2 separate regions of the Homo sapiens genome follow, and region 2 is linked to region 1. The links come from fine-mapping of genetic effects on gene expression. A gene starts in region 1. The other region holds a variant in brackets. All regions are shown on one strand. Distances are from middle to middle.

Region 1 (10,033 bases):
GGTGCAAAGAGCAGGAGGACAGGGGATTTATCTCCCAAGGGAGGTCCCCTGATCCTAGTCACGGCACCAAATGTCACGCACGTCCGTGTGAAGAGACCACCAAACAGGCTTTGTGTGAGCAAAAAGGCTATTTATTTCACCTGGGTGCAGGTGGGCTGAGTCCGAAAACAGAGTCAGCAAAGGTGGGATTATCATTAGTTCTTATAGGTTTGGGATGGGCGTACAAAGTACATTCTCAAGGGCAGGGAGAATATTACAAAGTACCTTCTTAAAGGCGGGGGAGAATATTACAAAGTACCTTCTTAAGGACCAGGCAGAATATATCGTATCAGTTAGGGTGGGGCGGGAACAAATCACAATGGTAGAATGTCATCAGGTAAGACTATTTTCGCTTCTTTTTTGGATCTTCAGTTGCTTCAGGCCATCTTCATGTATATGTGCAGGCCCACAGGGGATATGATGGCTTAGCTTGGGCTCGGAGGCCCGACACTGGGATATGTAACCATTATTCTAGATGGCTATGCTAAACCCAGCATAATCAGAGGTTCCATTTTGTTGAGAAAGAAGGGGACAACGAATATTGGGCAACAATTTGTCATCTCTGCCACTGAAACCACTGCTTCTCTGTCCACTACATTTTATCAAAGGCAGAGTGTCTTGCAATCAGCTTGACTTGCAAGAGGCTCAAAGGCCTCTTGGAATGCCTTGCATCAGTTTGCTTTTGTGGCATAAAAAGTTACCCCAGGTGGGCGCAGTGGCTCACCCCTGCCTGTAATCCCAGCACTTTGGGAGGCTGAGGCGGGTGGATCACTTGAGGCCAGGAGTTCAAGACCAGCCTGGTCAGCATAGTGAAACCCCATCTCTACTGAAAACACACAAAAAGTAGCCAGGCATGGTGGCTGGTGCCTGTAATTCCAGTTACTTAGGAGGCTGAGGCAGGAGAATCACTTGACCCTCAGAGGTGGAGGTTGCAGTGAGCCGAGGTCATGCCACTGCATTCCAGCCTGGATGACAGAGTGGGACTTGGTCTCAAAAAAAAAAAGCAAAGAAAAAAGAAAAAAGTTACCCCAAATATTAGTGGCTTGAGTCAACAGTCATCTATTTAACTTATGGTTTGAGGGCTGGGCGCGGTGGCTCATGCCTGTAATCCCAGCACTTTGGGAGGCCAAGGCGGGCGGATCATGAGGTCAGGAGATTGAGACCATCCTGGCTAACACAGTGAAACCCCATCTCTACTAAAAATACAAAAAAATTAGCCAGGTGTGGTGGCAGGCGTCTGTAGTCCCAGCTACTCGGGAGGCTGAGGCAGGAGAATGGCGTGAACCCAGGAGGTGGAACTTGCAGTGAGGGGAGATCGCGCCACTGCACTCCAGCCTGGGAGACAGAGCGAGACTCCGTCTCAAAAAAAAAAAAAAAAATTATAGTTTGAGAGTTGGCAAATTGGGCTGGGCTCCGCTGGGAGTTCTTGTCTGGCTGATCTTGGCTGGACTTGCTCATGCATCTGCAGTCTCCTGGTGAATCAACAGGGGCTGGCTGTGGTCATCCCACTAGTGCCTCTTCATGTTCCCGCAGCTGGACCCAGATCCCTCCTGATTATAATGGCAGTGCTAAACTAACAGTGTCATTGAGGAGTTATGTTTGGCTGATAGTAAGAGACAGCTCCCCAAATAACAATAGTTTTGGTGAATTGGAGGTTTGTTTTCTCATATGTAACCTAAAAGACAAGAGGTAGGCAGTCCAGGGAAGGAAAGGCAGATCCCAACTGCCATCAGGAACTGAGGCTTCTAAGGCCAGGTGCAGTGGCTCATGCCTGTAATCCCAGCACTTTGGGAGGCCAAGGCGGGCAGATCATGAGGTCAGGAGTTTGAGACTATCCTGGCCAACATGGTGAAACCCCGTCTCTACTAAAAATACAAGAATTAGCCAGGCGTGGTGGCGTGCACCTGTAGTCCCAAGAGAATCGCTTGAACCCAAGAGGTGGAGGTTGCAGTGAGCTGAGATCATGCCGCTGCACTCCAGCCTGGGTGACAGAGCGAGACTCCATCTCAAAAAAAAAAAAAAAAAAAAGAAATTCCAGTTCTGGATTTGACAGTCCTCAGATTGAACCTTGTCTTGGCCAATTTCTAGCTCTGTGACTGGGGCTAGTCTCTTAGTCTCTGCCTCCTGGAGTTGATGAGATGATGTACATAAAATATCTGATAGGCATGTGATGTTGGCTGTGAGCATCTTCATATGCCACTCAAGAACATCATCTTTTGCTCTTGTCTTCCTGTGGTAAAGGTTTTGTTTTCACTTCTAGGGTCTGCTCTTTGCTCTCAATGGTAACAGTGGAATGTTGGTGCTTAACCTTGGAACTGCAGGCCCTCCTCACTGGTGTAAATAACCTCAGAAAGATAAGAAGAAAATGTTCCCACTTCTTCTGTAACAGCAGAAAAATAGATATTAGTCTGCACCATAAAGATGGTTCAGATAAGCAGGTGAAGTTAGAACATCCACAAAAGTATAAAATTGACTCTTCTGTCCTGTGTGGAGAGGGGTAAGAGTATTATAAGCCCATTCTGATTTCTGTTATTTTACTCTTTTTTGATTGCGCCAGTGCAATCCAGCCTGGGCGATGACAAGAGTGAAACTCCATCTCAAAACAAACAAACAAACAAACAAAAACAAACCATAAACACAAACTCATAAACAACATACATCCAGCCACAGACATGATTGCAAATACACACAATTATACATAAAGGCACAGAATACATACAGAACCAGAGCTACACGGTAACACCCTGAAGACCGACTTCTTGTTTTCCTGGGGGAAGGAGGTTGGTGTGTAAGTATGTGGAAAGTGTGGGGTTCAGGGACCACACCTAAGAGCCACCAGAACTATCCCTTTCTATAGAAACAGGCTTCGTGGCGGATGAAGACCCCATCTTGGGGTTCCACCAGATATTCCTACTAAAGAACATCAGCTGGGTGTGGTGGCTCATGCCTGTAATCCCAGCACTTTGGGAAGCTGAGGCGGGTGGATCACTTGAGGTCAGGAGATCGAGACCAGCCTGGCCAACATGGTGAAACCTTGTCTCTACTAAAAATACAAAAATTAGCCAGGCGTGGAGCACGCCTGTAATCCCAGCTACTTGGGAGGCTGAGGTAGGAGAATCACTTGAACCTGGGAGGCGGAGGTTGCAGTGAGCCGAGATCACATCACTGCACTCCAGCCTGGGCGACACAGTGAGACTCCGTCTCAAAAACAAAACAAAACCAAACAAAACAAAACATCAGCGATGCAATGATGCTTGGGTTTGCACCAATGATATGCAGGCTTGCTCTGCACAACTTCAGCTGACCTCCTCTCCACCGGGCCCTCACGCTGCCTCCTCTTCCCTCCTCTTTCCAGAACTATTGCCACTCCTCCAGATATGATGCACAAATGAGCAGGGTCGCAGTGGGAGTGGGCGCAGTGCGCTGATGCCACGGAGGTGTTGTGCATGACGTCTGGACACTAGACTAGCTGCATGTAATGGGAAAAGTTTGTGTTGTACCAGCGCATGCCTTGGAAAGACTTAAGTAATGCAAAAGGTTGTCCTTTAAAAAAAAAAAAAATCTGGCCGGTCGCGGCGGCTCACGCCTGTAATCCCAGCATTTTGGGAGGCCGAGGCAGTCGGATCACGAGGTCAGGAATTCGAGACCAGCCTGGCCAACATGGTGAAACCCCGTCTCTACTAAAAAACAAAAATTAGCCGGGCGTGGTGGAGCACGCCTGTAGTCCCAGCTACTCAGGAGGCTGAGGCAGGAGAATCGCTTGAACCCGGGAGGCAGAGCTTGCAGTGAGCCGACATCGCGCCACTGCACTCCAGCCTGGGCGACAGAGCAAGCCTCCGTCTCAAAAACAACAACAACAACAAAAAAAAACAAAACTACTGACAAGTTGCTCTACTTAACCCAAAGAAAGTGAAGGAGAAAGCGGCTGCCTCACCGCCTAGACATTGAGTCGCCGGATGTTTCAATGCCTCATGATACAATAAAACCACAAAAATTTTCGTAACAGCAGCAGCAACAACAACAACAAAAGAGAAAGAGAGAGGGAAAGAAACAGGCCTCGTGGGATGCGCAGTTTACGTCTCCGCGCAAACCCAAGGACTTCAGAGTGGGTGGGAAACTCCCACAGCGCTTGGGAAACAGTCTGTAGTCTCTGTCCCGATTTTGGCCCTTTTCTGTATGATTTTTATGGGACTCTTCCTGTCACAAAGTGCCAGCCACCTTCCCAATCTTGAGTTGGGCGCGGGATCCGTAAGGTGAAGATCAAGGTGTGCTCATCGCTTGGGCCCGCTGAAAGGTGATTCGCCCCCCACCTGCTGGAACTCCTTGCCCGGGACCACCAATCCCAGCATGCCTTGAGAGCGCGCGAGGGCCTGGGCGGTTCCCAGGAGGTCCGGGTGGGCGCAGGAGAAGCGCGGGCCAGTGAAAGCTCTGAGAGCCCTGTCCCTGTGGACACTGTGTCTTGGGTTCCTTTACTCGGTGTGGCTCAGGGATTACCATTAGGGAGTGGAGTGTGGATTTCTCTTGCCCCGAGCCCTAAATGCCTTGGGGCCCTGCCTTGCACCCCACTGTGCTTTTAGGGGTGTGGCCCTGTGGGCTACATTTCCCAGCGTGCCCTAGGATCGTGGTCCTGACCTTTTCACCGCAAATTTCATTTCCCAGCATGCCCTGCGAGGTCACCCAGGGAAGCTTGGAAGTGGACTGTCTTTCATGGCTTCTAGGTTGCGGACTCAGTTTCCCATGGTGCCCTGGTGAACCCATTCATTCATTCATTCCAAAAATATTTGCGATCAGGTTCTCTCAGGTTCTGTTCTAAGAACCGAGGACAAGTAGTGCACAGAAGACAAAAGATCCCGCTCTCGTGGAGCTTATTTCTAGTTAAGGGGTCAGGAAAAAAACCAAAATAAATAAAACCCAGCTGGGCATGGTGGCTTACGCTCGTCATCCCAGCAGGATTACAGGCCGAGGCGGGCGGATCATGAGGTCAAGAGATCAAGACCATCATGGCCAACATGGTGAAATCCCGTCTCTACTAAAAATATAAAAATTAGCAGGGCGGGGTGGCGCGCGCCTGTTATCCCAGCTACTCTGGGGACTGAGCCAGAATTGCTTGAACCTGGGAAGCGGAGGTTGCAGCGAGCCGATATCGCGCCACTGAACTCCAGCGTGGCGACAGAGCGAGACTCCGTCTCAAAACAAAGAAAACAAAATAAAACAACAATAACAAAACAACTCTGCCTCTCCCCGCACTCCCTCCCACGCGGCTGTCCAGTCGAATTCCTAACTGCCCCGGGGCAGTCTGCTATTCATCCCCTTTACCCGGTGCTACACACTTCCTAGTATGCCGTGGGGCACCCCTCCGGCCTGTAGACTCCATTTCCCAGCATTCCCCGGAGGAGGCCCTCATCTGGCGATTTCCACTGGGCGCCTCGGAGCTGCGGACTTCCCAGTGTGCATCGGGGCACAGCGACTCCTGGAAGTGGCCAAGGGCCACTTCTGCTAATGGACTCCATTTCCCAGCGCTCCCCGCGACCTGCCCAGCACACCCTGGGGCAGCGCCGTGACGTCAGCACGCCGGGCGGGGACCGGGAGATCCTTGGGGCGGTGGGGGGCCAGCGGCAGTTCCCGGCGGCCCCCGGGGCGGGCGGGCGGGCGGGTGGTGGCGGCGGTTGGGGCTCGGCGCTCGCTCGCTCGCTGGGCGGGCGGGCGGTGCGATGTCCGGAGAGGATGGCCCGGCGGCTGGCCCGGGGGCGGCGGCGGCGGCTGCCCGGGAGCGGCGACGGGAGCAGCTGCGGCAGTGGGGGGCGCGGGCGGGCGCCGAGCCTGGCCCCGGAGAGCGCCGCGCCCGCACCGTCCGCTTCGAGCGCGCCGCCGAGTTCCTGGCGGCCTGTGCGGGCGGCGACCTGGACGAGGCGCGTCTGATGCTGCGCGCCGCCGACCCTGGCCCCGGCGCCGAGCTCGACCCCGCCGCGCCGCCGCCCGCCCGCGCCGTGCTGGACTCCACCAACGCCGACGGTATCAGCGCCCTGCACCAGGTCAGCGCCCCCCGCCCGGCGTCTCCCGGGGCCAGGTCCACCCTCTGCTGCGCCACCTGGGGCATCCTCCTTCCCCGTTGCCAGTCTCGATCCGCCCCGTCGTTCCTGGCCCTGGGCTTTGCCACCCTATGCTGACACCCCGTCCCAGTCCCCCTTACCATTCCCCTTCGACCACCCCACTTCCGAATTGGAGCCGCTTCAACTGGCCCTGGGCTTAGCCACTCTGTGCTGACCACTCTGCCCCAGGCCTCCTTACCATTCCCCTTCGACCTACTCTCTTCCGCATTGGAGTCGCTTTAACTGGCCCTGGCTTTGGCAGCCTGTGCTGACCCATGCAGTCCTCCTTACCATCCCTCCCTCGACTTCCCCTCTTCCGATGTTGAGCCCCTCCAGCCGGTCCTGGACTTTGTCTCCTTCCCTGCCCTGCCCTCTCCTGAACCTGAGCCAGCTCCCATAGCTCAGTCTGGTCTATCTGCCTGGCCCTGGCCATTGTCACTTTGCGCTGCCCTCCTCTCGCCCCCGAGTGCCCTTGCTGTGCCGCCGGAACTCTGCCCTCTAACGCTGCCGTCTCTCTCCTGAGTCCGGACCACTTTGAGCTCTACTGGCTTCTGCGCCGCCTCTGGCCCACTGTTTCCCCTTCCCAGGCAGGTCCTGCTTTCTCTGACCTGCATTCTCTCCCCTGGGCCTGTGCCGCTTTCTGTCTGCAGCTTGTGGCCTGGGTCACCTCTACGGCTGGCCCAGATCCTTCCCTGCCGCCTCCTTCAGGTTCCGTCTTCCTCCACTCCCTCTTCCCCTTGCTCTCTGCTGTGTTGCTGCCCAAGGATGCTCTTTCCGGAGCACTTCCTTCTCGGCGCTGCACCACGTGATGTCCTCTGAGCGGATCCTCCCCGTGTCTGGGTCCTCTCCGGGCATCTCTCCTCCCTCACCCAACCCCATGCCGTCTTCACTCGCTGGGTTCCCTTTTCCTTCTCCTTCTGGGGCCTGTGCCATCTCTCGTTTCTTAGGATGGCCTTCTCCGACGGATGTCTCCCTTGCGTCCCGCCTCCCCTTCTTGTAGGCCTGCATCATCACCGTTTTTCTGGACAACCCCAAAGTACCCCGTCTCCCTGGCTTTAGCCACCTCTCCATCCTCTTGCTTTCTTTGCCTGGACACCCCGTTCTCCTGTGGATTCGGGTCACCTCTCACTCCTTTCATTTGGGCAGCTCCCCTACCCCCCTTACCTCTCTAGTCTGTGCTAGCTCTTCCAGCCCCCTGTCATGGCATCTTCCAGGGGTCCGAGAGCTCAGCTAGTCTTCTTCCTCCAACCCGGGCCCCTATGTCCACTTCAGGACAGCATGTTTGCTGCCTCCAGGGATCCTGTGTCCCCGAGCTGGGACCACCTTATATTCCCAGGGCCGGTTAATGTGGCTCTGGTTCTGGGTACTTTTATCTGTCCCCTCCACCCCACAGTGGGGCCACTAGGGACAGGATTGGTGACAGAAAAGCCCCATCCTTAGGCCTCCTCCTTCCTAGTCTCCTGATATTGGGTCTAACCCCCACCTCCTGTTAGGCAGATTCCTTATCTGGTGACACACCCCCATTTCCTGGAGCCATCTCTCTCCTTGCCAGAACCTCTAAGGTTTGCTTACGATGGAGCCAGAGAGGATCCTGGGAGGGAGAGCTTGGCAGGGGGTGGGAGGGAAGGGGGGGATGCGTGACCTGCCCGGTTCTCAGTGGCCACCCTGCGCTACCCTCTCCCAGAACCTGAGCTGCTCTGACGCGGCCGTCTGGTGCGTTTCACTGATCCTGGTGCTGCAGCTTCCTTACACTTCCCAAGAGGAGAAGCAGTTTGGAAAAACAAAATCAGAATAAGTTGGTCCTGAGTTCTAACTTTGGCTCTTCACCTTTCTAGTCCCCAATTTATATTGTTCCTCCGTGCGTCAGTTTTACCTGTGAGATAAGGCCAGTAGCCAGCCCCGTCCTGGCAGGGCTGTGGTGAGGAGGGGGGTGTCCGTGTGGAAAACTCCCTTTGTGAGAATGGTGCGTCCTAGGTGTTCACCAGGTCGTGGCCGCCTCTACTCCCTTTCTCTTTCTCCATCCTTCTTTCCTTAAAGAGTCCCCAGTGCTATCTGGGACATATTCCTCCGCCCAGAGCAGGGTCCCGCTTCCCTAAGGCCCTGCTCTGGGCTTCTGGGTTTGAGTCCTTGGCAAGCCCAGGAGAGGCGCTCAGGCTTCCCTGTCCCCCTTCCTCGTCCACCATCTCATGCCCCTGGCTCTCCTGCCCCTTCCCTACAGGGGTTCCTGGCTCTGCTCTTCAGACTGAGCCCCGTTCCCCTGCATCCCCGTTCCCCTGCATCCCCCTTCCCCTGCATCCCCCAGAGGCCCCAGGCCACCTACTTGGCCTGGACCCCACGAGAGGCCACCCCAGCCCTGTCTACCAGGCTGCCTTTTGGGTGGATTCTCCTCCAACTGTGGGGTGACTGCTTGGCAAACTCACTCTTCGGGGTATCCCAGGAGGCCTGGAGCATTGGGGTGGGCTGGGGTTCAGAGAGGAGGGATTCCCTTCTCAGGTTACGTGGCCAAGAAGCAGGGGAGCTGGGTTTGGGTCAGGTCTGGGTGTGGGGTGACCAGCTTATGCTGTTTGCCCAGGACAGCCTAGTTTTAGCACTGAAACCCTCAGTCCTAGGAAAACAGGGATGGTTGGTCACTGTCTCTGGGTGACTCTTGATTCCCGGCCAGTTTCTCCACCTGGGGCTGTGTTTCTCGTCCTGCATCCTTCTCCAGGCAGGTCCCCAAGCATCGCCCCCCTGCTGTGGCTGTTCCCAAGTTCTTAGGGTACCCCACGTGGGTTTATCAACCACTTGGTGAGGCTGGTACCCTGCCCCCATTCCTGCACCCCAATTGCCTTAGTGGCTAGGGGGTTGGGGGCTAGAGTAGGAGGGGCTGGAGCCAGGATTCTTAGGGCTGAACAGAGAAGAGCTGGGGGCCTGGGCTCCTGGGTTTGAGAGAGGAGGGGCTGGGGCCTGGACTCCTGGGTCCGAGGGAGGAGGGGCTGGGGCCTGGACTCCTGGGTCTGAGGGTGGAGGGACTGGGGGCCTGGACTCCTGGGTCCGAGGGAGGAGGGGCTGGGGCCTGGACTCGTGGGTCTGAGGGAGGAGGGGCTGGGGGCCTGGACTTCTGGGTCTTAGGGAGGCGGGGCTGGGCCTGGACCCCTGGGTCTGAATGGGGAGAGGCTGGGGGCCTGGACTCCTTCATCTGAGGGCGGAAGGGCTGGGGCCTGGCCTCCTGGGTTGAATGGGGAGGGGTTGGGCCTGGACTCTGGAGTCCCTGGTGCCCAGGCCTCAGGCATCTTTCACAGGGATGCCTGTACTGGGCAGGTCCTTGAAAGGGAAAGGCCCATTGCTCTCCTTGCCCCCCTCCCCTATCGCCATGACAACTGGGTGGAAATAAACGAGCCGAGTTCATCCCGTTCCCAGGGCACGTGCGGCCCCTTCACAGCCCGAGTTTCCATGACCTCATGCTCTTGGCCCTCGTAGCTCCCTCCCGCCTCCTCCAGATGGGCAGCTTTGGAGAGGTGAGGGACTTGGGGGGTAATTTATCCCGTGGATCTAGGAGTTTAGCTTCACTCCTTCCTCAGCTCCAGTTCAGGTCCCGGAGCCCACCCAGTGTCCACAAGGCCTGGGGCAAGTCCCTCCTCCGACCCCCTGGACTTCGGCTTTTGTCCCCCCAAGTTTTGGACCCCTAAGGGAAGAATGAGAAACGGTGGCCCGTGTCAGCCCCTGGCTGCAGGGCCCCGTGCAGAGGGGGCCTCAGTGAACTGGAGTGTGACAGCCTGGGGCCCAGGCACACAGGTGTGCAGCTGTCTCACCCCTCTGGGAGTCCCGCCCAGGCCCCTGAGTCTGTCCCAGCACAGGGTGGCCTTCCTCCACCCTGCATAGCCCTGGGCCCACGGCTTCGTTCCTGCAGAGTATCTGCTGGGGTG
Region 2 (10,780 bases), 44 kb after region 1:
CAGAACGTCACCAGGTGCTGGTACGGACCATGGAGAAAGCAGTGAGGCCCAAGATGATGCCAGGTGGGCTCAGAATCCCCCAGAATAATCAGACTTTCAGCCTGAGACTAACCACACCTCCTCCAGGAAGCCTTCCTTGATCACCTGTTCCACAAATCAGCTCCTCCTCCCAGTGCCCTTTGTTTCCCTTTCATCAGAGTGACTAGCACCTGAGTCTGGCTTCTCACAGACTGGAGGCTCCTTGCGGGCAGGGAAGGAGTCTGGATTATAGCTCTCTCCTTCTAAATGCCTCCTCGGGTCTCCTGCCATGCCCCCTGCCACCTCCATTAGAGCACCAGGCGCCTCTGTGGATTCCTCTGGACCTTGTCTACCCCTTCCTCATGCAGGGCTGTGTCTTGATTTGCCTCCGTGGTCCCACTGTCCAGCACAACAGCTGGCCTGGAGGAAAGGCTGGCAGATTAAGTGGACCCGAGGCCCCTGGCTTCATATCCATGACTGAGGTGAGGCAACGGAGGTCCATTTTATGGATGGGCAAACTGACTTTCCACATGCTTCCTGCTTGGGGGCCTAGCTGCTTTCAAAAGCCCTATCTCCTGAGGCCACCTTTGCCCCAGAAGATGTCCTGGGGGAACACAGACCCCAGACTCACATTGACTGGGTACTGGGATACATCAGCCATAACAACTGTGGAGTAACGCTTCCTCTGCTCTGCCAGGGGAGAAAGAGAATGAGCCTGGGAGTCCAGGCCCAGCCCCTCCTCCATCAGACCCAGGAGTCCAGGCCCCCAGCCCCTCCTCCCTCAAACCTAGGAGTCCAGCCCCCCAGCCCCTCTTCCCTCTGACCCAGGAGTCCAGGCCCCCAGCCCCTCCTCCCTCAAACCCAGGAGTCCAGGCCCCCAGCCCCTCTTCCCTCTGACCCAGGAGTCCAGCCCCCCAGCCCCTCCTCCCTCTGACCCAGGAGTCCAGACCCCCAGCCCCTCTTCCCTCTGACCCAGGAGTCCAGGCCCCCAGCCCCTCTTCCCTCTGACCCAGGAGTCCAGGCCCCCAGCCCCTCTTCCCTCTGACCCAGGAGTCCAGCCCCCCAGCCCCTCTTCCCTCTGACTCAGGAGTCCAGACCCCCAGCCCCTCTTCCCTCTGACCCAGGAGTCCAGCCCCCCAGCCCCTCTTCCCTCTGACCCAGGAGTCCAGCCCCCCAGCCCCTCTTCCCTCTGACCCAGGAGTCCAGCCCCCCAGCCCCTCTTCCCTCTGACCCAGGAGTCCAGCCCCCCAGCCCCTCTTCCCTCTGACCCAGGAGTCCAGCCCCCCAGCCCCTCTTCCCTCTGACCCAGGAGTCCAGGCCCCCAGCACCTCTTCCCTCTGACTCAGGAGTCCAGGCCCCCAGCCCCTCCTCCCTCAAACCTAGGAGTCCAGCCCCCCAGCCCCTCTTCCCTCTGACCCAGGAGTCCAGACCCCCAGCACCTCTTCCCTCTGACTCAGGAGTCCAGACCCCCAGCCCCTCCTCCTCCAAGACCCTGGATGCCAGGTCCTGTTTCTTTAGACCCAGTTCTATGGGCCTGGGGCTCCCTTGCCCCCCGCTCACCATAGATAGACTTGGCGCTTGGCTTTGGGGCAGCTTCTGGGCTGGTGAAGAAAAGAGGAATGAGAGAGACTGTGGGACTGGGGGCAGATCCTGTGGAAATGCCAAGCAGGGCAGCAAGGGCTTCATGACGAAGGTAATGGGGAGCGATGGAAGGGTTATTATTATTATTATTATTATTATTATTATTATTATTATTGAGCAGGAGAGCTCAGAGCCAGAGCTGGACTTTAAGAAGACAGGTAGGCTGGGCGCGGTGGCTCACGCCTGTAATCCCAGCACTTTGGGAGGCAGAGGTGGGCGGATCACAAAGTCAAGAGATTGAGACCATCTTGGCCAACATGGTGAAACCCTGTCTCTACTAAAAATACAAAAATTAGCTGGGTGTGGTGGTGGGCGCCTGTAGTGCCAGCTACGTGGGAGGCTGAGGCAGGAGAATCACTTGAACCTGGGAGGCGGAGGTTGCAGTGAGTCCAGATCGTGCCACTGCACTCCAGCCTGGCAGCAGAGTGAGACTCCATCTCAAAAAAAAAAAAAAAAAAAAAAAGACAGGTCAGGTCAGGCGGTGGTGCTGGGTGGTAGGGGAGTGTGATCTCTACCATGGCATAGTCCGGGATTCAAACCCTCTGTCTACTGCCTCCTTGCCATAAGACCTTCAGAAGAGGATTTAATCTCTCCTGCCTCAGTTTTTCTTTCTGTAACGTAGTAACCATCTGGTAGGGCTGTTGGGCAAATTCAGTCAGATGATGCAGGTGAAGTATTTTGAAGCCTCAATAACTGTTATTATCATTCTTAAGATGCTGCCAGGGCTTAGCACACAGAAGTTGCTCAATAAATGGGAATGGTTATAATAGCATTAGTGGTATCTGAAGTAGACAGGGAATTATCTGCTTCCCCTCCCACTCCCATGGGCCAGGTGCTTCCCAACCACATCCTTCTCTGTCTCCTCCCGTCCTCAATTTCTTCCTAAGATTACCTTTCCTAAGAATTCTTGAATCCCCACTTGCATGCACATAACAGAAGCTCAGCGATCAGGTGGCGTCAGGGGAACTGAAAAACCCTTTTTCCCAAACTCCTGTTCCTCATCCTGCTCCTGCCAGTCTGATGTCACCACAATTTGATTACCTCTGGGCCAGAGAGCTCACTACCTACCATGCAGGTATTTTGACTCATCTCTCATTGTTTTTCTCCCTGCTTACTCTGGGGGACTTGAGTCTTCATTATAAACAGCCCTGATTTTCTAGCAAAGGGTTAATATTTACTAACAACATAACAATCGCAATAGCGACTCCTATGAGTTGAGCACCTGCTGTCAGTGAGGTGGTCAGCTAAGTCCTGTAATGCACTATCCCTCCAATTTTTCAACATTGTCCCTGTGTCACAGAGGAGGGGCTGAGGCTCCAGGAGGTGATGTCCTCTGACCAGGGTTACATCAGCACTGAGTGTGAGGGCCGAACTGGAGCTCAGGCCTGTCTGCTCTGCAGTGGGGGCCCCTAACCCCAGGCTGGGCAGGGAGGAGAGAGGCTCTGGCTTCCTCCTGAGTGTCGGGGCTTGGGCCAGAGTCTGGGCCGCCGCAAACAGTCTGGGCTGCCGCAAGCGGGTGTGGGTGAGGAGGCGAGGGGAGGCGGGAGGCGTGCTGGGGCTGGGACCTGGGGTCCGGGGGCGCTTACCCTGTGGCGGTGCTCATGGTGCTGAGTGGTAGCTCCTGCCCACCTGGAGGTGCCCTGGGAGCCAGCAAACATGTGAAGGCCTGGCCAGTAGGAGCCTCTAATTCCTACCCCAGCCTCCTCCCTCAATGCAGGCATCCAGGCCCCAGCCCCTCCTCCCTCAGGCCCAGGAGTCCAGGCCCCCAGCCCCTCCTCCCTCAGACCCAGAAGTCCAGGCCCCAGTCCCTCTTCCCTAGACCCAGGAGTCCAGACCCCAGTCCCCTCCTCCCTCAGACCCAGGAGTCCAGACCCCAGTCCACTCCTCCCTCAGACCCAGGAGTCCAGGCCCCATCTCCTCCTCCCTCAGACCCAGGAGTCCAGGCCCTCAGCCCCTCCTCCCTCAGACCTAGGAGTCCAGGACCCCAGGCCCTCCTCCCTCAGACCCGGGAGTTCAGACCCCCAGCCCGTCCTCCCTGAGACCCTGGAGTCCAGACCCCAGTCCCCCCGTCCCTCAGACCCATTGGTCAAGCCCCGGCCCCCTTCTCTCCTGACCCGGATCTCCTTACCTGCCTGCTCAGGCTCTGCCCTGCTCTCCGCTGTCCTTTCCCTTCCAGGCTGCCGGCCCCTCCTCCTGCTCCCTCCCAGGGCCGTCCTGCCTCCGCCTCCGCCTCCGCATACCTGAGCATTCACCTGGCACAGCCTGGCTGGAGTGACCCCGGGGCGGGGCTGGCAGACAGATCTAGGAGGGGCTGGGGGGACTGCAGGGGAGCTGGGAAACTAACTGTCTGCCTTGTAGCAACAGAATAATAGCAACGAACAGTACATTTGATGTCACACTTGTTCACAGGTCAGAGTTGAAAGCTCTGTCTTTAAAACTCCCTTGAAATTCTAACAGCGGGAGGAAGTTCGAGGTTTGATTCCTGCTTGACAGATGAGGAAGCTGAAGGCCAGAGAGGTTGAGCAACTTGTCCATTTCAGCACTTGGTTAAGGAGGGATTTGAACCCGGGGCTGACCTTCTGTCTCCAGGGCCAGTGGCAGCCCGTCTTCTATGGACACCTCCTGCCCACGATCACTGCCTCTGCTCATGCCCTTACCTCCCCACCCATCCCGTTCCACCTTCCTTTGGAAATTTCCCTCAATGACCCCCCTATTCTGACAAAAGCTAAGATTTAGCTCGATAATGCCTGGCCCAGCTCCAAGGACATCACAAAAATGAACAGGCTTTCCAGGCATAAACACCTTTCTGAAATCACTTTTCCAGAACTCCCTCCATGCTGTAGAGGTTACTAGCAAAGCTTTCCACATCATTTCTCCCCAGAGCCCCGTGAGGGGAGTGTGTCTGGGTGGGAGGCTGTCTTCGTCTCACAGATGAGAAAATGAGGAAGAGAAGGGTTAAGAAACTTGCATGGGTACAGTGGCTCACATCTCTAATCCCAGCACTTTGGGAGGCCGAGGCAGGCAGATCACCTGAGGACAGGAGTTCGAGACCAGCCCAGCCAACATGGTGAAACCCCATCTGTACTAAAAACACAAAAATTATCCAGGTGTGGTGGCGGGTGCCTGTAATCCCAGCTACTCAGGAGGCTGAGGCAGGAAAATCACTTGAACCCGGGAGGCAGAGGTTGCGGCGAGCCGATAATTGCACCACTGCACTCCAGCCTAGGCAAGAGAGCGAGGCTCCATCTCAAAAAACAGAAAACAGGCCGGGCGCAGTGGCTCACACCTGTAATCCCAGCACTTTGGGAGGCCGAGGCGGGTGGA[A/T]CACGAGGTCAGGAGATCGAGACCATCCTGGCTAACACGGTGAAACCCCGTCTCTACTAAAAATACAAACAATTAGCCGGGCGTGGTGGTGGGCACCTGTAGTCCCAGCTACTCGGGAGGCTGAGGCAGGAGAATGGCGTGAACCTGGAAGGCGGAGCTTGCAGTGAGCCGAGATTGCGCCATTGCACTCCAGCCTGGGCGACAGAGCGAGACTCTGTCTCAAAAAAGAAGAAAAAAAAAAAGCTGACATCTTGCAAGGCCTTAAGGGACGTGATTCTGATCTCATCTCTTCCTTCTGTGTGTCAGCACACTGGCCTCCTTGCTGCTCTTGGAACATCCAGACCCGGTCCTGCCTCAGGGCCTTTGCACTTGCTGTTTCCTCTGCCTGGAATGCTCTTCTACCAGATACCCTCATGCCTCACTTTCTTGCCTCCTTTGATCTTTGCCTGAATGTCACCTTCTCAGAGGACTGGCTGACCACCCTGTTTCAAATGGCGGCATCCCTTACTCGACTTCTTTTGTTTTTTTTGAGACAGAGTTTCACTCTTGTTGCCCAGGCTGGAGTGCAGTGGCGCAATCTTGGCTCACCGCAACCTCCGCCCCCCCAGGTTCAAGTGATTCTCCTGCCTCAGCCTCCTGAGTAGCTGGGACTACAGGCGCGCGCCACCACGCCCGGCTAATTTTGTACTTTTAGTAGAGACAGCATTTCACCATGTTGGCCAGGATGGTCTCGATCTCTTGACCTCGTGATCTGCCCGCCTCGGCCTCCCAAAGTGCTGGGATTATGGGTGTGAGCCACCGCCCCCGGCAACCCAACTTCTTTGTAGTCTCTTTCCTCTCTCCCTACTTCATTTTTGTGTGGAGAACTTTTCACCTTCTTACCCACTGTGTTCCTGGTTCATTTTGTCTGTGTCTCCTCCGTTAGAATGCAAGCTTCACAGGCTGGGCACGGTGGCACATGCCTGTAATCCCAGCACTTTGGGAGGCTGAGGCGGATTGATCACTTGAGGTTGGGAGTTCGAGACCAACCTGGCCAACATGGTGAAAGCACGTCTCTACTGAAAATATGAAAATTAGCCGGGGGTGGTGGTGTACACCTGTAATCCCAGCTTCTTGGGAGGCTGAGACAAGAAAATTGCTTGAACCCCGGAGGTGGAGGTTGCAGTCAGCCGAGATCACACCATGTCACCAACATGATAAAACCCCATTTCTACTAAAAAAAAAAAAATTAGCCAGAGTTGGTGGTGCACACCTGTAATCCCAGCTTCTTGGGAGACCAAGGCAAGAGAGTCACTTGAACCTGGGAGGTGGAGGTTGCAGTGAACCGAGATGATCGTGCCACTGCACTCCAGCCTGGGTGACAGAGCGAGACTCCATCTTAAAAAAAAAAAAAGCGGCCGGGTGTGGTGGCTCACGCCTGTAATCCCAGCACTTTGGGAGGCCGAGGCGTGTGGATCACGAGGTCAGGAGATTGAGACCATCCTGGCTAACATGGTGAAACCCCGTCTCTACTAAAAATACAAAACAATTAACCAGGCTTGGTGGTGGGTGCCTGTAGTCCCACCTACTCCGGAGGCTGAGGCAGGAGAATGGCGTGAACCCGGGAGGTGGAGATTGCAGTGAGCCAAGATTGCTCCACTGCACTCCAGCCTGGGTGACAGAGCAAGACTCCATCTCAAAAAAAAAAAAAAAAAAATGCAAGCTTCACAAGGGCAAAGATTTTTGTGTGATCAGTCCTCCACTTAATCTGCAGCACACAGAATTGGGTCTAGCACATAGAAAGTGTTGGAGAGATACTTGTTGAGTAAACGAGCTTTTGGCATTTGGTGCATTCATGTGCATTACTGCTTTGTTGCTTCATTCAAGATATGTTGCCTCCACGGTCTATGCTGAGTGAGCCTGGAAATCAGAGAAGGCACATTTTTGCCTTCGATTGATGGGGATGAAGGAACAGAGAGAAAGAGATATAGTGTGGTCTGATGGCAGAGAGCCTCGGGCAGGTGTGGGTCTGAATCCTGGCTTTGCCACTTGATAATTTTGGAGATACTTATTGTGTGCTTATATCTTCTCAGTACATCATAAATGTGTGTGTGTGTGTGTGTGTGTGTGTATGCATAATCCTCACCACATCCTATGGAATGGGTCCTATTATCCCCATTTTTTTTCTTAATTGAGACAAGGTCTAGTTCTGTGGCCCAGGCTAGAATGCAGTGTCATAATCACAGCTCACTGCAGTCTCGACCTACTGGGGTGATCCTCCCATCTCAGACTATATATAAATATATATACACATATATATAGTAGAGTCTCCTTATGTTGCCCAGGCTGGTCTCCAACTCCTGGGCTCATGTGATACTCCTGCCTTATCCTCCCGAAGTGCTGGGATGACAGGCATGAGCCACCCACCACACCCAGCTTATTGGGAGGATAAAGTCAGGTTATAGAGAGTTGTCAATACAGTACCTGGCAAAGAGGAAACGCAAGGCTGGTGTTAGCAATGGCGAGGACGATGGCCTTTCTTCCCATGCGTGCTGCAAGGGAGGACACGAGGGGCTCTGCCAAGGCCAGGAGAGGCTGCTGAGGGTCAGGACAGGCTGCCTGGAGGAGGAGGACAGGCTGCCTGGAGGAGGAGGGCAGGCCAGGAATCACCTTGAAGGATGAGTTTGACAGCCAGTGTCAATCCTAGAAGATAGGGGTGTTCTGGGCCCTGCAACTGCCTGAGTGAAGGATGGGGGCTGCAGGGGTGGCCAGCGGGGCTAGACTGTGAGCTCCTGGCTACCCAGCAGGTGGTCCTGGTGCGTGTAGCAGCGGGTGGGGGAGGTAGGGGTGGAAGGAGGGCCCTTACGCTTCTCTTTCTTTGGCTTCTGCAATTCTGTGTTCTCATCACATTCATGCCACAAGTATTTTCTGTGCTTGACTGTACCTGAGTTGGGGTTTGAGGGAAGGAGCAGACCCCTTGCCCCATTGACAGGAGAAAACAGAGGCTCAGAGAGGGAAGTCAGTAGCCTAAGGTTACAGTGGCCCTGGGCTGTGACACAGATGCAGATCTGACTGGGCCTGGGCTCATTTCTTCATGAACAAGGGGAGAAAACTATCTCATAGAAGCATTTGGTATGGGTCCGAGGCCTTTGGGTCTGAGGGAGGAGGGGCTGGGGTCTGGACTCTTGGGTCTGAGGGAGGAGGGGCTGGGGGCCTGGACTCCTGGGTCTGAGGGAGGAGGGGCTATCTCATTGCTTTGGGGGTGGCGCAGGCGGCCCTCCAGGCCATGGTCTGGAGCAGCAGGTGAGACCGAAACCCGAGCCTCCACCCAAGTCCCAAGTCCCAGGGCCCAGGGCCTCTTTCCTCCTTCTCTGGCCGCAAAGGAGGCCCCTCCCTCTCTGTAACCCACAGCAAATGCCTCCCAAATACCAGTCAAAGTGTCCACCCCTGCACAGTCTGACTCAGCCAGTCCAGGGCGGAGGCAGTAAAGCCCTGTCTTGGCAAGTCACCAGGGAAATCCATCACCGAAGCACCTCTCTCCCCCCTCGGCCTGGCTATTCTGTCATTGGCACCTGTTCTTGGGTGAGTGACAGGGCTCTGTGGTCAGGGTTTGCCTCTGTCCCAGTCTGGGATAGCTGTCTTGGGGGGCTGGCCTTTCTTCCCTCTCACCTGGGATGTCCCAGGAACGGAACAGAATTCTCCCCTGGGGCTTGAAGAGCTCACCCCCCATCTCCTCCGTTATCCCCACCCCCACACCACCCAACACACATCCTCTAGTCTGTAGGATTTGCTGACAAATTCCTATGACAGCCGGATGTGGTGCCTCACACCTGTTACCCAGCATTTTGGGAGGCCATCACTTGAGATCAGGAGTTCGAGACCAGCTTAGCCAACATGGTGAAACCCCATCTCTACAAAAGTAGCTGGGTGTGGTGGCGTGCGCTTGTAGTCCCAGCTACTAGGGAGACTGAGGCAGGAGAATCACTTGAACCCGGGAGGCAGAGGTTGCAGCGAGCCATTGCGCCATGCACTCCAGGCTGGGTGACTGACTGAGATTCTGACTCAAAAAAAAAAAAAAATCCTATGACAAGGAGAAAGGTCAGATTCCCTGGCAATGGGAGCTGAGGCATGTTCTTGAGAAGGAGGGAGGTTATAAATTAGATGGGGCTGGGTCTCAGAGAGATATAGCTACTTACATATTAAATAATGAGGCTGAGTGTGGCGTCTCACACCTATAGTCCCAGTACTTTGGGAAGCAGAGGCAGGAGGATCCCTTGAGCCTAGGAGTTTGAAACCAGCCTGGGCAACATAGGGAGATTCCATCCCTACCAAAAAAAAAATTAAAAATTAGCCAGGCATAGTGGCCTGCATCTGTGGTCCTAGCTGCTTGGGAGGCTGAGGTGGGAGGATTGCTTGAACCTGGGAGGTCAAGGTACAGTGAGCCACGATTGCACCACTGCACTCCAGCCTGGGTGACAGAGCAAGACCTTGTCTCAAAAAAAGTAATTAATTTATTTATTCAATACGTAGCTCCTGAGACAAAATGTGTGCCGTACTCTAGACCCTGCTGGTGTGCACAATTCATGGGGGATATGTGCGCTAATGGAAGTGTGGCACAGGGCAAGGGTGTCCCCAGAGAAAGCCCTAATCCAGCTTTATGGGTGGTTGTATGAGGCACAGAAGCCTTTCCTGGTTAAGGGATAAATGGATGGGGTTTCAAAGGATGAATAGGAGTTTGCCAAGGACAATGAAGCAAAGATTGACATTCTAAGCATTGGGAGTGTCCTATGCAAAATCCCAAAGTGATGTAGTAGCAAATACTTAAGCACCTACAGTGTGCCAAGCATGTTTCATGTGCTGGAGATACAGAGGAGGAGGAGACAGATGAAACCCCAGCCCTTGTGATATTGTCATCCTAGTAGGTGTGGTGGGGAGATAAACAAGTAGACACCTGCATGAATAAGACTTTCAGATTGTGGTAAACCCTGTGGAGGAAACGAAACAGGTGAAGGAACGGCGTGACTAGGAGCAGGCAGGTGCGGCTGCTTCAGGTAGGGTGGTCAGGGAAGGAGGCGGCATCTGAGCTTTGACCTCAATTTCGAGAATGAGCCAGGAATGCAGAGAGGATTTCAGGCAGAGGAAACCTTAGGGAGGCTGGCGGGTTAAATCTGCAGGGGTGTGGCTGGCCGGAGGAAGTGAGGTGTGAGACAGTCACGTTGATGGTGACAGCAGCAGTGACCGTAGCAGCCTAGAGGTGGCCGAATGCTTACTCTAATGGGCTGGCCCATCCCTGAGTGTCTAGAGTTCCCAGCCCGCTTAAGGAAGGAAGGAAAACACAGGCAGCTCTAAGTGTACGACGAGGGAGGTCTCATCGGCGGTGAGGAAGCCCAGGCGGGTCCCCTTCCCAGCTGAAAGGGGTTCGGGTAGGTTTTTCCTGGGCGTTCCTCTGAGAACAGCCAGCCCTGGTGAGAGTGCGGGGAGAGGCGCTTATGACACAGGGAGGGTGGGTCTGGGAACCAGCCTGGCAGGAGGAGGAGGGAGACTGCCGGTGGCCGGGAGCTGTTTGTTCTCTGGGAGGGATCGTGGCGGGGTGGTTTGTGCAGCCCTTTCCTGAAACCGGAGGAGCCTGGCTCCTTCCCAGGTCTCTGGGGGATGGGTCGGGGCGGGGGGTGGTGACGGGGATAGGACCCCAGACAGACTTGAGTTTGGATCCTGGGTTGGAGCCGGTGACTTCACTCTCAGCTCCCTGAACATCAGGGCCTGCCTTTCTTCCCTCCCTTCCCCTCCCCTCCCCTCCCCTTCCTTCCTTCCTTCCTTC

The links. PIP is the estimated chance that this variant, and not a neighbour inherited with it, causes the effect.
Region 2: its variant is fine-mapped to the expression of PPP1R12C in prefrontal cortex (GTEx, PIP 0.95).

The regions. Positions count from the first base shown.
Region 1 is chr19:55,113,261-55,123,293 of GRCh38, reverse strand. It overlaps PPP1R12C (protein phosphatase 1 regulatory subunit 12C), which reads left to right and starts at 5,657. Exons shown (of 22, transcript NM_017607.4): 1 at 5,657-6,071. The coding sequence starts at 5,751. MIR7975 (microRNA 7975) reads left to right here and starts at 2; the gene lies at 2-69. RefSeq lists enhancers at 2,274-2,363, 5,302-5,581, 6,542-6,621, 7,022-7,071, 6,426-7,261 and 3 more and silencers at 5,642-5,721, 5,912-5,991, 6,012-6,111.
Region 2 is chr19:55,068,927-55,079,706 of GRCh38, reverse strand. EPS8L1 (EPS8 signaling adaptor L1) reads right to left here and starts at 3,838. Exons shown (of 20, transcript NM_133180.3): 1 at 3,788-3,838; 2 at 3,246-3,299; 3 at 1,579-1,619; 4 at 650-708; 5 at 1-17. The coding sequence starts at 3,262. It also overlaps a transcript of RDH13 not described here. RefSeq lists an enhancer at 2,659-3,384. The variant A/T (reference allele first, on the strand shown) is at 4,984.